3 separate regions of the Homo sapiens genome follow, and all the other regions are linked to region 1. Evidence: fine-mapped expression QTL. A gene starts in region 1. Each other region holds a variant in brackets. All regions are shown on one strand. Distances are from middle to middle. Region 1 holds the start of YEATS4 (YEATS domain containing 4). Region 2 has its middle 38 kb from the start of YEATS4. Region 3 has its middle 25 kb from the start of LYZ.

Region 1 (4,246 bases):
AGCAGAGGGCCACTACATAGGTGCAACCTTTGGCTTCAAAATTCTTGGACCATTCTGACGTGATTAAACTAAAAACGAATGAGTTTATGCATATCGAGATACCCTGAGGTGTACAAAGGATGAGTCAAGGTAGCGGAGAGAGAGTTGAAGAGTGACAGCTGAGAAACAGAGATAGGACATGTCCAAGAAGTGCCAGGATAACCCAACAACACAGGCTGATTGAGGAAACTGCCAGAGATTAGACAAAGTAGACTGAAGAGGGAAAGCAATGTTTGTTGGAGATTTTGCTTTAGTTTTTGATAAATATTTCTTAGTCATACCAATTGTTTTAAATATAATTACGCCCCCAAACCAAATTTCTACTCTTATTCTGGCAACAGAATAAAAATCAATATCAATGTTTGATCATTTTCAAAGAAACTCAGTTCCTATCTTGGTTGAAATGCAGTGACATCCATATGACAATTGAGCTCTTCATGTGGCACTAATATAACTAAGCCCTGAGCACATCCCTTGCACTTCTATTTAGTGAAGTCTTTTAAAAAGTATTTTCTTTACAGTTGTTAAGTGGAATTACTAAAAATTACAATCAGCAGTATTTTCTACTCTTTTAGCTTATTTTTTAAAATATTTATCTCCATGCTTTTCAATATTACACCTATATTGCTTCTTCTTGATTTTTCCATTTTAAGATACTGACTTCCTACTATGGAAGTTAAAGATTAAGCTCTATTTCCTCCTCCTCCATCCCCATCAAGCATAGTACCCTTCTCCAAAGCCCATCCTTCTAAATGTAATTCTTTTTTTGAGGGGGAGGGGGGATCAATACTCAGTTTTTTTTTGTTTTGTTTTTTTTTTTTTTTTGAGACGGAGTCTTGCTCTGTCACCCAGGCTGGAGTGCAGTGGTGCGATCTCGGCTCAAGGCAAGCTCCGCCTCCCGGGTTCACGCCATTCTTCTGCCTCAGCCTCCCAAGCAGCTGGGACTACAGGCGCCCACCACCACGCTCGGCTAATTTTTTTGTATTTTTAGTAGAGACGGGTTTTCACCGTGTTAGCCAGGATGGTCTCGATCTCCTGACCTCGTGATCCGCCCACCTTGGCCTCCCAAAGTGCTGGGATTACAGGCGTGAGCCACCGCGCCCGGCCAATACTCAGTATTTATGTAACAATAAATACAATTACTTTCCTTTCTTGCACAAGATTTTGTTTTCCCTAGAATTAATAGCTGCATAATTCTTACAGCCGCTTAGTTTTCTGTGTACCTGTCATGAGTTAAACTCCAAACTCTCGGTCAAATCTCCTCTTGATTCAACGCCAGCTGGAATTTTGTCAATCCCATCCTTCTGAAGCAGTGTCTCCCAAAGATTTCTGACCGAATCTAATCTAGATGCGTTGCCGTCTATGCCTATACACAGCTATTGTTCCCGGAGCTCTTTCAGTATCATCTTGGGATCTTACTATTTTCTGTGTTTGTTATTTATTGTATTTCCTGCATTTCATAATTTCCTCCTTCTTGGCTTATTCCCTCATTTTGGTGGATCAGATCTACAGGATCTTCCTGGAGGTACTGAGAAAGGTAAGATAGGTACTATTTTTTGTGTGTAGTGATTTAGCACATCTGAAACTCTATTCTATTCACACACTAGATTGGTAGTTGGATGAGTATTGAAGACTAAATCGGAAGTAATTTTCCCTCAGAGTTTTGAAGACAGTGCCGTATGGCTTCCTAGATTCTAACTGAGCAATCTGAAGCCACTCTGATTCTATAGTCTGTATAACCTGGAAGGGTGTGGGATCTCTTTTTCCTCGATGTTCAGAAAATTCACAATGATATGCCTTGACGTGGATGCTTTAATATTTGTGCTGGGTGCTTAGTAGGATCTTTCAGTGTGGAAACTCATCTCCTTAACATCTGGACAACTTTTTGAAGTCATTTATTATTTCCTGCCTTTCATTTTTTTTTTGGTTTGGAACTCCTGCACTGGTCCTGTGATGTGACTGCAGCCGCCAGGCGCGTGCGCAGTGTACACTGCGTGCGCATACGCGAGCCCGTTGCGCCTGCGCGCGGTGCGGCCGTCGCCCCTCTTTTCGCGGCGTTCTCCACCTGCGCGGGCCTGAATGGCCTTCAGGAGCACAGTCGGCCTGAGGAGTTGACGGTTACTCACCGCCGTGAGCCCAAGTAACTCGCCCTCCTTCGGCTAGAAACCCTCCGCCTGGGCCCGCGCGACAGGAGCGCGGTCTCTGAGGGGAGCGGCGACCCCGCCAGCCCCGGTCTCTTTCCCTGGCGGCGGCGGCTTCTTCCGTGGGACAATATGTTCAAGAGAATGGCCGAATTTGGGCCTGACTCCGGCGGGAGAGTAAAGGTCAGTGCCCGGACCGCCCCTCTTCCGGGGTGGCTCTCCCGCCTCGGTTCCTCCCTGCGCGGCGCGGGGAGGGCCCACTGGGTTTCCTTTCGCGCCTTTTCTCCTCGGGTTTGAACCGTGGTTTCAGGTTGGAGAGCGAGTCAGAGCCATTGAGCGAAAAACCGGCGTTCATTGGGCCCCAACTTCCTCGCGTCACTGCCAACTCCCACCCCCGCCAAAAAACAAACAGATAAATGGTGGCTTGGGGAAACCCGGACGTGGCTGCCAAGGAAACGGGCGACTCCGAGGGCTGGGAAAGCTCAGCTTGGTGCACATTCGCTGCCAATCTAGGTTATTGGTGAAGCGGTGACGCCACCCTCCTGGTGTGAGGATAACAATAACTGTAGCAAACAGTCGCTGAGCGCTTACCCGCAGTATTTCCAAGTGCGGTAACTGAGACACCGAGGCATACGAAAGCTAAGAAAATTTGCTGGAGTTCATGGTGTTCACAAAGCCTCAAAGCAAGAGCATAACACTGTGCCTGGCACATGGGGAACATTCAGTAAATGTCAACTTCTTTTGTTTTTGATGAAATTACCATAGACCCTAGCGTAATGTTTGACATTGTAATATTTATTTCCCTCACACAGCCCCTGGCACGTTAATTTTTTTTTTTTTTTGAGACGAAGTGTCTGTCTTGTTGCCCAGGCTGGAGCGCAATGGCACGATCTCGGCTCACTGCAACCTCGGCCTCCCAAAGTGCTGGGATTACAGGCGTGAGCCACCGCGCCCAGCCGTGGTTCATTCTTTTTAAAGAAAAATTTCCTTTCCTTTATAAATAAAAATCAGAAGGGGTACAAATAGTTGTTTTTATCAGGAGCCAGTGGGTCCTGCCTTAAAAATTAACGTGCAGGGCCGGGCAAGGTGGCTCACGCCTGTAATCCCAGCACTTTGGAAGGCCGAGGAGGGTGGATCACCTGAGATCAGAAGTTCAAGACCAGGCTGGTCAACATGGTGAAACCCCGTCTCTACTAAATATACAAAAATTAGCCGGGCGTGGTGGCGGGCACCTGTAATCCCAGCTACTAGAGGGGCTGAGGCAGGAAAATCGCTTGAACCCGAGAGGCGGAAGTTGCAGTGAGCTGAGATCGTGCCACTGCACTCTAGCCTGGGCGACAGAGCAAGACAATGTTTCTTTAAAAAAAAAATAGCAATAATTAGTAGGTTTTAAAATACTTATGTGTGTGTGTGTGTGTGTGTGTGTGTGTTTTGTTTTGTTTTTTTTTGAGACGGAGTTTTGCTCTTGTTGCCCAGGCTGGAGTGCACTAGCGCAATCTCGGCTCTCCGCAACCTCCACCTCCTGGATTCAAGCGATTCTCCTGCCTCCAAGCGATTCTCCTGCCTCAGCCTCCTGAATAGCTGGAATTACAGGCATGCGCCACCATGCCCAGCTAATTTTGTATTTTTAGTAGAGACGGGGGCTTCTCCGTGTTGGTCAGGCTGGTCTCGAACTCCCGACCTCGGGTGATCTGCCCGCCTCGGCCTCCCAAAGTGCTGGGATTACAGGCGTGAGCCACCGTGCCTGGCCGCTTTTCTTCATTTTTATTGTTGTTGGTTACATTCACTCAGCACTTTTCACATGTGGTAAATCTTGCTCATTGTTCTTCAGATACATTTCTGTAACTGAGCCATTGGTTTCAGATTCATGTGCAACATTCAATATTTTCACTTCAATTGAAATTTTTTATCTTTCCAACATAATCTGTCAATACGCACTGCCTTTGCACTTATCAGATATAAGAAATATGTATGTTAAACTAAGGACAAATGTAGCAAACATGTCATCAGCCACTATTTACCAAGCTTCAGTCATCCAAGTGACTCTTGGCCATTTTTGCCATGTC
Region 2 (4,246 bases), 38 kb after region 1:
GACTTACGGGTAAGGTCCTTGCTCTTCAGTGCATTGTCCGGTGAACTCGGATAAATAACATTATGGTCCTAATGTAAAAATAGGCAGTTAAAGGTATGAGTTTCATCTATCTCCTGCCCCAGCCTGGACTCTCTGATCTGGCTTTTAAATTATTTTTAGTTATTTTTACTTAAGATAAATTTTAACCAATTGACCACCTAGATTTCAGTAACCTTATGTAATACGCCTCATGTCAATCCCCAACTCTAGGTAGCCCTCCTGGATCTCCACCCTAATCTGTTTACTCTTTCTCACTTTCACTGGCTATCCTGAGTTAACTGTTCTCTACCCTCAACACGGCTTCATTGCTCTTTAGTAATTCCTTAGTCTACCCTTAGTAAATTCTTTATTGTTGCTGTCTGAAAATTTCCAGTCTACTGAATCACCAGTCTGCTTATTCACTAAATGAATAGAGTCATAAAGCTGGGAGCTAATCATCTAACTTAATTCCCTCATTTGATAAGGGAGTAGAGCCATGAAGAAATTAAATGACTTTCAGAGTCACACAATCTGTTGGGACAGAGATTCAATTTTAATTCAGCATTTCCTGACTGAACAGTCATGGTACAGCTCCCCCAAAGCTTAGAGGAGAGTGTGCAAACTGGAAATCAACTGGGAAACAAACTTTCCAAGAAAGAAGAAATCTGTAAGCTGAGGTTTACTGTTACTGTTATAGTCCAATCCCTATTATTAAAATTTTGGCTCATTCTGGTTAAATCATGTTCTCATGATTAATGAGTTAAATCTGGTTAACTCATGTTCTCAAAATTAATGAGAACATGAGTTAATCTGGTTAAGTCATGTTCTCAAAATTAATGAGAATTGTCACTCCTATTTGGTTTAATTACATTCATGAATTGAAACCATGAACCTATTTACTCTTATTTTGCACATCAGCAGATGACCTCAGTTCTTACATCATTGAGATCACTGATGCTATTCAAATTGATTCTGTAAACTTCCATCCATACAAAGTTTCTCTTTGTTCTCACCAAATCCTGCTTTCTTTCATCTCCCTAAATGTTCTCACCATCTGTAATTTTAATTCCAATTTATACTATATACTACTGCGAGTTTATAGTTAGGGGAAAATAAACTTTCCTGAGCCTCAGTTTGCTGTGGTAAACATACTACCTACCTCATGGAATTCTGTTAAAGGGTAAATGACATAGCACATGTAAAAGCGTGTTGAATGGTAAGAATAAAGAAGATAATAATGCTGGCCATCTGCTAAAATCCTTGACAAAATACTAGCAAACCAAATCCAGCAACATAAAAAGGATAATAAGTCCCATTATCAACTGGGATTTATCTCAGGAATGCAAGGTTGGTTCGGCATATACAAATCCATAAGTGTAATACACTATTATGAGCTGAATTGTGTCCCTCTTCCAATTCACATATTGAGCCCTAACCCCTAGTACCTCAGACTGTGACTGTTTTTGAAGATAGTGTCAAAGAAGTAATTATAATCATTAGGTTGGGCCCTAATCTAATATGACTCGTGATATAGTTTGGCTGTGTCCCCACCCAAATCTCATTTTGAATTGTAGCTCCCATAATCCCCACTTGTTATGAGAGGGACCCAGTGGAGGTAGTTGAATCATGGGGGCTGGTTTTTCCTGTGCTGTTCTCAAGATAGTGAATAAGTCTCATGAGATCTGATGGTTTTATAAAGGGTAGTTCCCCTGCACACGCTCTCTTGCCTGCCACCATGTAAGACATGCCTTTGCTCATCTTTCACCTTCCACCATGATGTGAGGCCTCCCCAGCCATGTGGAACTGTGAGTCCATTAAACCTCTTTTTATTTATAAATTACCCAATTTTGGTATGTCTTTATTAGCAGCATGAAAATGGACTAATACAACTGGTGTCCTTGTAAGAGGAGACTAAGACACAGACACTCACAGAAGGAAGACCATATGAAGACACAGGGAGAAGACACCCATCTACAAGCCAAGGAGAGAGGCCTCAGGAGAAACTAATCCTGCCCACAACTTGATCTCAGACTTATAACCTCCAGAATTGTGGGAAAATAAATACCAAATACCTGTATGTGGTAGTTTGTTATGGCAGCCTTAATAACTAACATATAGACTATATTAATAGAACAAAGGACACAAAATACACATGATCATCTCAATAAATGCAGACAAATCATTTGACAGAATCCAATACCCGTTTATAATTAAAAAAACACTCAACGAATTAGTAATATAAGAGAACTTCCTCAGTGGGAAGCATCATACATAGTGGTAAAAGACTGGATTCTTTCCCCATAAGATTAGGAAAAAGATAAGGCTGTTCACTCTTTCCACATCTATTCAACACTGTGTGGGAGGTTCTAGCCAGAGCAATTTGGCAAGCAAAAAGAATAAAAGTCATCCAGATTAGAAAG[A/G]AAGAAGTAAAATGATCTCTATTTGGAGATGACATAATCTTGTGTAAAGAAAACCCTAAGGAATACACACACACACACAAAAAAACTATTAGAGGTAATAAATGGATGCAGCAAAATTGCAGGATGAACGATTATATACAAAAATCAATTAGTTCCATACTCCAGCAATGAACAATCTGAAAATAAAAATTTTAAAAAAATTTCATTTATAATAACATCTAAAAAAATAAAATACTTGGGAATATAACACCTAAAGTGCACTCAACCAAATAAAAAATAGACAAATTGACTGGATGCAGTGGCTCACACCTGTAATCCCAGCACTTTGGGAGACAGGGTGGGTGGATTGCTTGAGCCCAGGAGTTCAAGACCAGCCTGGGCAACATGGCAAAATCCTGTCTCTACTAAAAAAATATAAAAATTAACTGGGCATGGTGGTGTGCACCTGTAGTCCCAGCTACTTGGGAGGCTGAGGTGGGAGGATCGCTTGAGCCCAGGAGATGGAGGTTGCAGTGAGTCAGGATCATGCTACTGCACTCCAGCCTGGGCAACAGAACAAGACCCTGTCTCAAAAAAAAAAAAAAACGGCAAATTGATCTTCATCATTAAAAACTTTTGTGCTTTGGCCGGGTGTGGTGGCTCACGCCTGTAATCCCAGCACTTTAAGAGGCTGAGGCAGGTGGATCATGAGGTCAGGAGATTGAGACCATCCTGGCTAACATGGTGAAACACTGCTTCTACTAATACAAAAAATTAGCTGGGCATGGTGGCGGGTGCCTGTAGTCCCAGGTACTCAGGATGCTGAGGCAGGAGAATGGCGTGAACCCGGGAGGCGGAGGTTGCAGTGAGCCAAGATCACACCACTGCACTCCAGCCTGGGCAACAGAGTGAGACTCCGTCCCCCCCAAAAAAACAAACAAACAAACAAAAAAACTTCTGTGCTTCAAAGGACATTCTAAAAAAAGTCAGAAAAAAAAAACAAACCCACGAAATGGGAGAAAATATTTGCAACTCATATATCTGACAAGAGTCGAGTATCCAGAATATATAAAGAACTCTTACAACTCAACAATAAAAAGACAATTAAAAATTGGGCAAAAAATTTGAATACACATTTCTCCAAAGAAGATATTCAAATGGCCAATAAGCATATAAAAAGATGCTTAACATCATTTGGAAATACAAATCAAAATGATGATAACACTTCACATCCACTAGAATGGCTGCAATAAAAGAGACAGACAATAGTAAGTGTTGATGAGGATGTGGAGAAATTGAAACTCTCATATATTTCTGGTAAAAATGTAAAAAGATGCAACTGCTGTAGAAAAAGTTTCAGAGTTCCTTAAAATGTTAAACATAGAGTTACCATATGACCTCAAAATTCTTCTAGATATATACCCAGGAGAATTGAAAACATGTCCACACAAAAACTTGTGCATGAATATTTATAGGAGCATCATTCAGAATAGCTAAAATTGGAAACAATCCCCATGTCCATCAACTGATGAATGAATAAATCGAATGTGGTGTATCAATACAATGGATTATTACTCAGCAGTAAAAATGAATGATGTGCTAAACATGCAGAATGAATCTTATAAACATGCCAAATGAAAGATGCCAGACACAAAGGCCACCTACTGTATGACTCCACTTATATGAAACATCCAGAATAGGTAAATCCATAGAGACAGAAAGTGATTAGTGGTTGCCAGGAGATGGGTGGGGAAGGGAGGATGGGGAGTGACTGGGTGCAGAATTTTTTTACGTGGCGGTGATGGAAAAGTTCTTGAATTAAATAGTGG
Region 3 (4,246 bases), 36 kb before region 1:
TGTAACTGTATGGTTTTGAGATAATAACTTGTTTATTGTTTAGAAAGGAGAGCAAACTGGGGATGGGAAGAGGAGAAGCTATCATTTATTTATTGTTTAAATGTGAATGTGCCATAGTCATCATGGTGTGATTTCAACAAAGCCACAAAGTAGATATTAATATCCTTATCTTCTGTAAGAGGAAGTTGAGTTTCATAGTGTATGAATAACTGGCCAGAATCATAGAGATTAGTGCAGCTTCTTAACCTTTATTTTGGAGAGGTTGCTTGGGCAAATATCCGTGAGGCATCTGGACCCAAGTTCATATCACTTGCAGGAACTGTGGACTCTGATGGTGTGAATTCAGCCATGGATAATCTCTTTATGGTAGGATGACTTTGGAAAGAAAAGATATTTATGCAGTTTCCATGGGTTTCATAATTCTGTATTCTGAATGGTGCCCTGTCTTTGTGTCCCGCTTTGCCATTCAGAGGTGCTTAATTAATTAAGGCCTCATTTGGCCATGTTAACAGAAAATTATGTTTTTTCTTCTACCAGTACCTTTTTATTTGATGTTCAAAGATTCCAGTGGTGCTTACTCAGTCCAGAGTATCAATCTTGTTTACTCTTACTGCATACTGAAGCTGGACAGCCCAGACAACTCAGAAAAATGAACTGTTCATTATAACTACTGCAACTGTTGCTAACCTCAGTCTTTTTTTTTTTTTTTAGACAGAGTCTCACTCTGTCACCCAGGCTGGAGTGCAATGGCGTGATCTTGGCTCACTGCAACTTCCGCCTCCTGGGTTCAAGCGATTCTCCTGCCTCAGCCTCCCAAGTAGCTAGGACTACAGGTGCCCACCACCACACCTGGCTAATTTTTGTATTTTTAGTAGAGACGGGGTTTTACCATATTGGTCAGGCTGGTCTCGAACTCCTGAGCTTGTGATCTGCCCACCTAGGCCTCCCAAAGTGCTGGGATTACAGGCATGAGCCACCACGCCTGGCCTGACCCACCACGCCTGGCCTGACCTCAGTCTTCCTTGAGGAGAGGCCAATACTGCCCTTTCACCAGCCTGGACACAGTTGCTGCTGAAGCATGTAGCTAAATATGGGCAGCCCAGTCAGATGGAATAGATTTTCTAGTTTTCTTCTCTGTTGCCAGGATGCTGATGCGTGGTGACCCCAAATCAACCACCCATAGGGCTTCAGACTGAGAATCCCTCTCTTTTAGCCTGAAAATAGAGATATCAATCCCCCCCCAACAAAGCTGGCCCCTTCCAGATGACTCTTATTTTCTAGTCCTGCCCCTGCCCTAACAGAATCTGGAAGGGCTCCCTCTTAATGGGGCTCTCAGCCTTACCCAGGCATGGTCCATCAAGATGTAGTTATGACAGGGAAAAACCAAGGCCTGGGTTATCCAGACAGAACTACTGAGAAAAAATCTTCCAGAAGCTGCTGAGATGAGAGAAAGACAGGAGTGATTATGGAAAAGACCACCACTCATGAAGCATGTAGTAATATGCCAGGAACTGAGACAATGTATTAATAATGACTTTCTGTGTTTCTGTAAGATGTCTGGTTTGACATCTTAGGAGCCCTACTGGCAGGGGAGGGACTGCTCCTTCCAGGGCTAGTTAATTCCTAGACACAGTAAATAACTTGCCTGGGAAAACACCTTTCATTTGCAACACAACAAATCCAAAGCCACACCCCCAAACCTTTGGGGGTC[G/A]TGGCTATATCTAACTATCACACACCAAGCCAATATTTGTCCTATCCTAAATCACCCCTGGGCCAGGTACCTAACAACTAGAGCCCATCCCTATAGTCCAGAGTCTGTGGAAATTATTCAAACTAGCAAATTTTAAACTATTTACTGTCTTGCTCCTTCCTTCTCATGGAAATCACAATAAAGTCTTTGAGCCATGCTTTCCTCCTGCTCCTATGCCTTCTAACTGACCCAGGTGCTTCCACATGTGGTCCTGAGTGGAATGGCATGTACCCTTCTCTAGATAACTGAATTACAATGAAATCTTCTTTCAATGACATTAGCCTCTCTCTGCAATCGCTCAGTCATCTCCAAAAGTGAAAATCCTACAAGTACAATCAAGACACATAGGCACTTTACATATGTAATCCCATCAAACTCTCACATCTTCTAGGAAACTGAGGCTCATTGAAGACCCTTCACAAGCTCCTACAGTTTTAGTGCAGAGCCAAAATTTAAGCTCAAGTTTTTTGGACTTTACAGCCTATGCTTTTTAAATTACAACACGACACTGAGTCCCTTGACCCCCCATTTGCCCTGTAAGTCCTCACCCTGGAGGGACTAGAAATCAAAAGTGTTGGATTATAATTCATCTAGGACCTTGCTATGGACTGAATTTTGTCCCCCTTCACTACACCCCCAAATTCATACGTCAAAGTCTTAACCCCCTATGTGAATATATTCGAGATGGAGTCTTTAAGTAGGTGATTAAGGTTAAATGAGGTCATAAGAGTGGAGCTCTGATTTAATAGAACTGGTACCCTTATAAGAAGAAGAAGAGATTCAGAACTCTTTCTTCACCATAGGAAGATACAGGGAGAAGGTGGCAGTCTGCAAAGCCAGGAAGAGAGCCCTTACAAGAACCTAATGATGCTAGTTCCGATCTCAGACTTCCAGCCTCTAAAACTGTGAGAAAATTAATTTCTGTTGTTTAAGCCACCCAGTCTGTGGTATTTTGATATGACAGCCCTGAGTTGACTAAGATAGCCCCTACCTCATTTCTATACCTTGGCCAATCACTTCTCTCTGAACGTTAGTTACTCATATAACCATAAACAGTTTTATTTGTAAAGGTACAATTCTCAAATTATTAAGACCAAATCTCAGTTCTGCTTCTGATTCTATTATAGAAAATCACAAAAGGGTGTCAATCTCATGCTAAAAATCAAAACAAGCCAGACATAATTTTTTTAAATGCTTCAGAGAACTGAAGGTCCAGGTATGGTGGCTACTAGGGCAGCTGAGGCCTGGAGTTCCAGACCAGCCTGAGCAAGATAGCGAGACTCTTACCTCTATAAGAAAGAAAGAGAGAAAGAAAATAAAGAAGGGACTAAAGACACAAAGGAATCTAGAAAGAAAAGAAACACAAACTCCAGAAAGTAGCCCTTATCTAGGAAAGATAAGACCCACAGCTGCTCTCATCACTGGAGCAAGAACAGGTTAGGGGAAAAAAAAAAACCATGGATGGGAATAATGAGAAATTAGCTAGTTTTTCACCAATATATAATAATGGGCTAGTGAAACAGATTAAATCCCAAAGATACCCAGCCACAGAGCAAGTCTGCATCCACTCATTCACTTTTTCCCGTGGGTCATTATACAACAGTAGTAGGTAAAAAGTTAGAAGGAGAGAAGAAAAGTTAAGAGAGATCCCCTGTTGGGGTGTGTGGAGTCTTCTGCAAGTTCATAGCTCTTTCTGGAGGCAAGGGAACAGGGAAGACGAGTGGAGAGAAATCCATCAGACGTACTCTAATGTCCAACTGTGAAAGTTGAGATAGGTCAGGAATCCTCACAAGCAATGCAGGCATTCAACTACCAAAGCCTAAAGACTTAGTAGGAAAGCTAAGAAACTCCTCTGAAACATTCTGGACCTTCATGGAGAGCAGAGAAGCTGTCCTCCAAAGGCCAGAGGGTGAGCAGCAAGGCTTCAAGAGACCTCTACACACACAAACAGGAGACTAGACTGAAAAACAAAGAAAACTCCCAGTAACCCATAACCTGACAGCTTGGCTGTGAAGCAGGAAGAGATTCCCCCAGGTGACATGGCTGGGAAGCACAGATGGATCTCTAGGATGTTGTTAATTCTCAGATCCCAGGCTCTGCTGAAGAGAAGCCCTCATTCTACTCCATAACACTTGAAGTCAGTGGTGAACAGAAACTAACTAAAACCACAACACAGTCAAACACAGCTCAACTACACATCAGATAGACTTAGTTCCATGCCAATAGCCTGACACAGAAGAGGAAGTGGATCTGGAGATGGTCTTTAATGGAAATCACCACCAAGAAAGAAATTTTTTTTTGAGATTACAGTTTTATCTCTTGTTTACTAAATGTAAATTGTGTGTTTGCATGTATGCATATATATGTGTGTGTATATATCCATATGCAAAAAAAAAAACTTGGGTCTATACATTGCACCATTTCACCATACATAAAAATTAACCCAAAATGGATCATAAACCTAAATGTGAAACATAAATCTATAAAACTTCTTAA

What was found. PIP is the estimated chance that this variant, and not a neighbour inherited with it, causes the effect.
Region 2: its variant is the best candidate, but not a certain one, in a credible set for the expression of YEATS4 in whole blood (INTERVAL, PIP 0.57).
Region 3: its variant is the best candidate, but not a certain one, in a credible set for the expression of YEATS4 in subcutaneous fat (GTEx, PIP 0.67).

The regions. Positions count from the first base shown.
Region 1 is chr12:69,357,661-69,361,906 of GRCh38, forward strand. It overlaps YEATS4 (YEATS domain containing 4), which reads left to right and starts at 2,083. Exons shown (of 7, transcript NM_006530.4): 1 at 2,083-2,363. The coding sequence starts at 2,313. RefSeq lists enhancers at 1,827-2,430, 1,988-2,177, 2,431-3,032 and a silencer at 2,458-2,617.
Region 2 is chr12:69,395,807-69,400,052 of GRCh38, forward strand. It overlaps a transcript of YEATS4 not described here. Among named protein-coding and RNA genes, the nearest start is that of YEATS4, 38 kb to the left of the region's middle. The variant A/G (reference allele first, on the strand shown) is at 2,439.
Region 3 is chr12:69,321,353-69,325,598 of GRCh38, forward strand. No RefSeq gene overlaps it. Among named protein-coding and RNA genes, the nearest start is that of LYZ, 25 kb to the right of the region's middle. The variant G/A (reference allele first, on the strand shown) is at 1,712.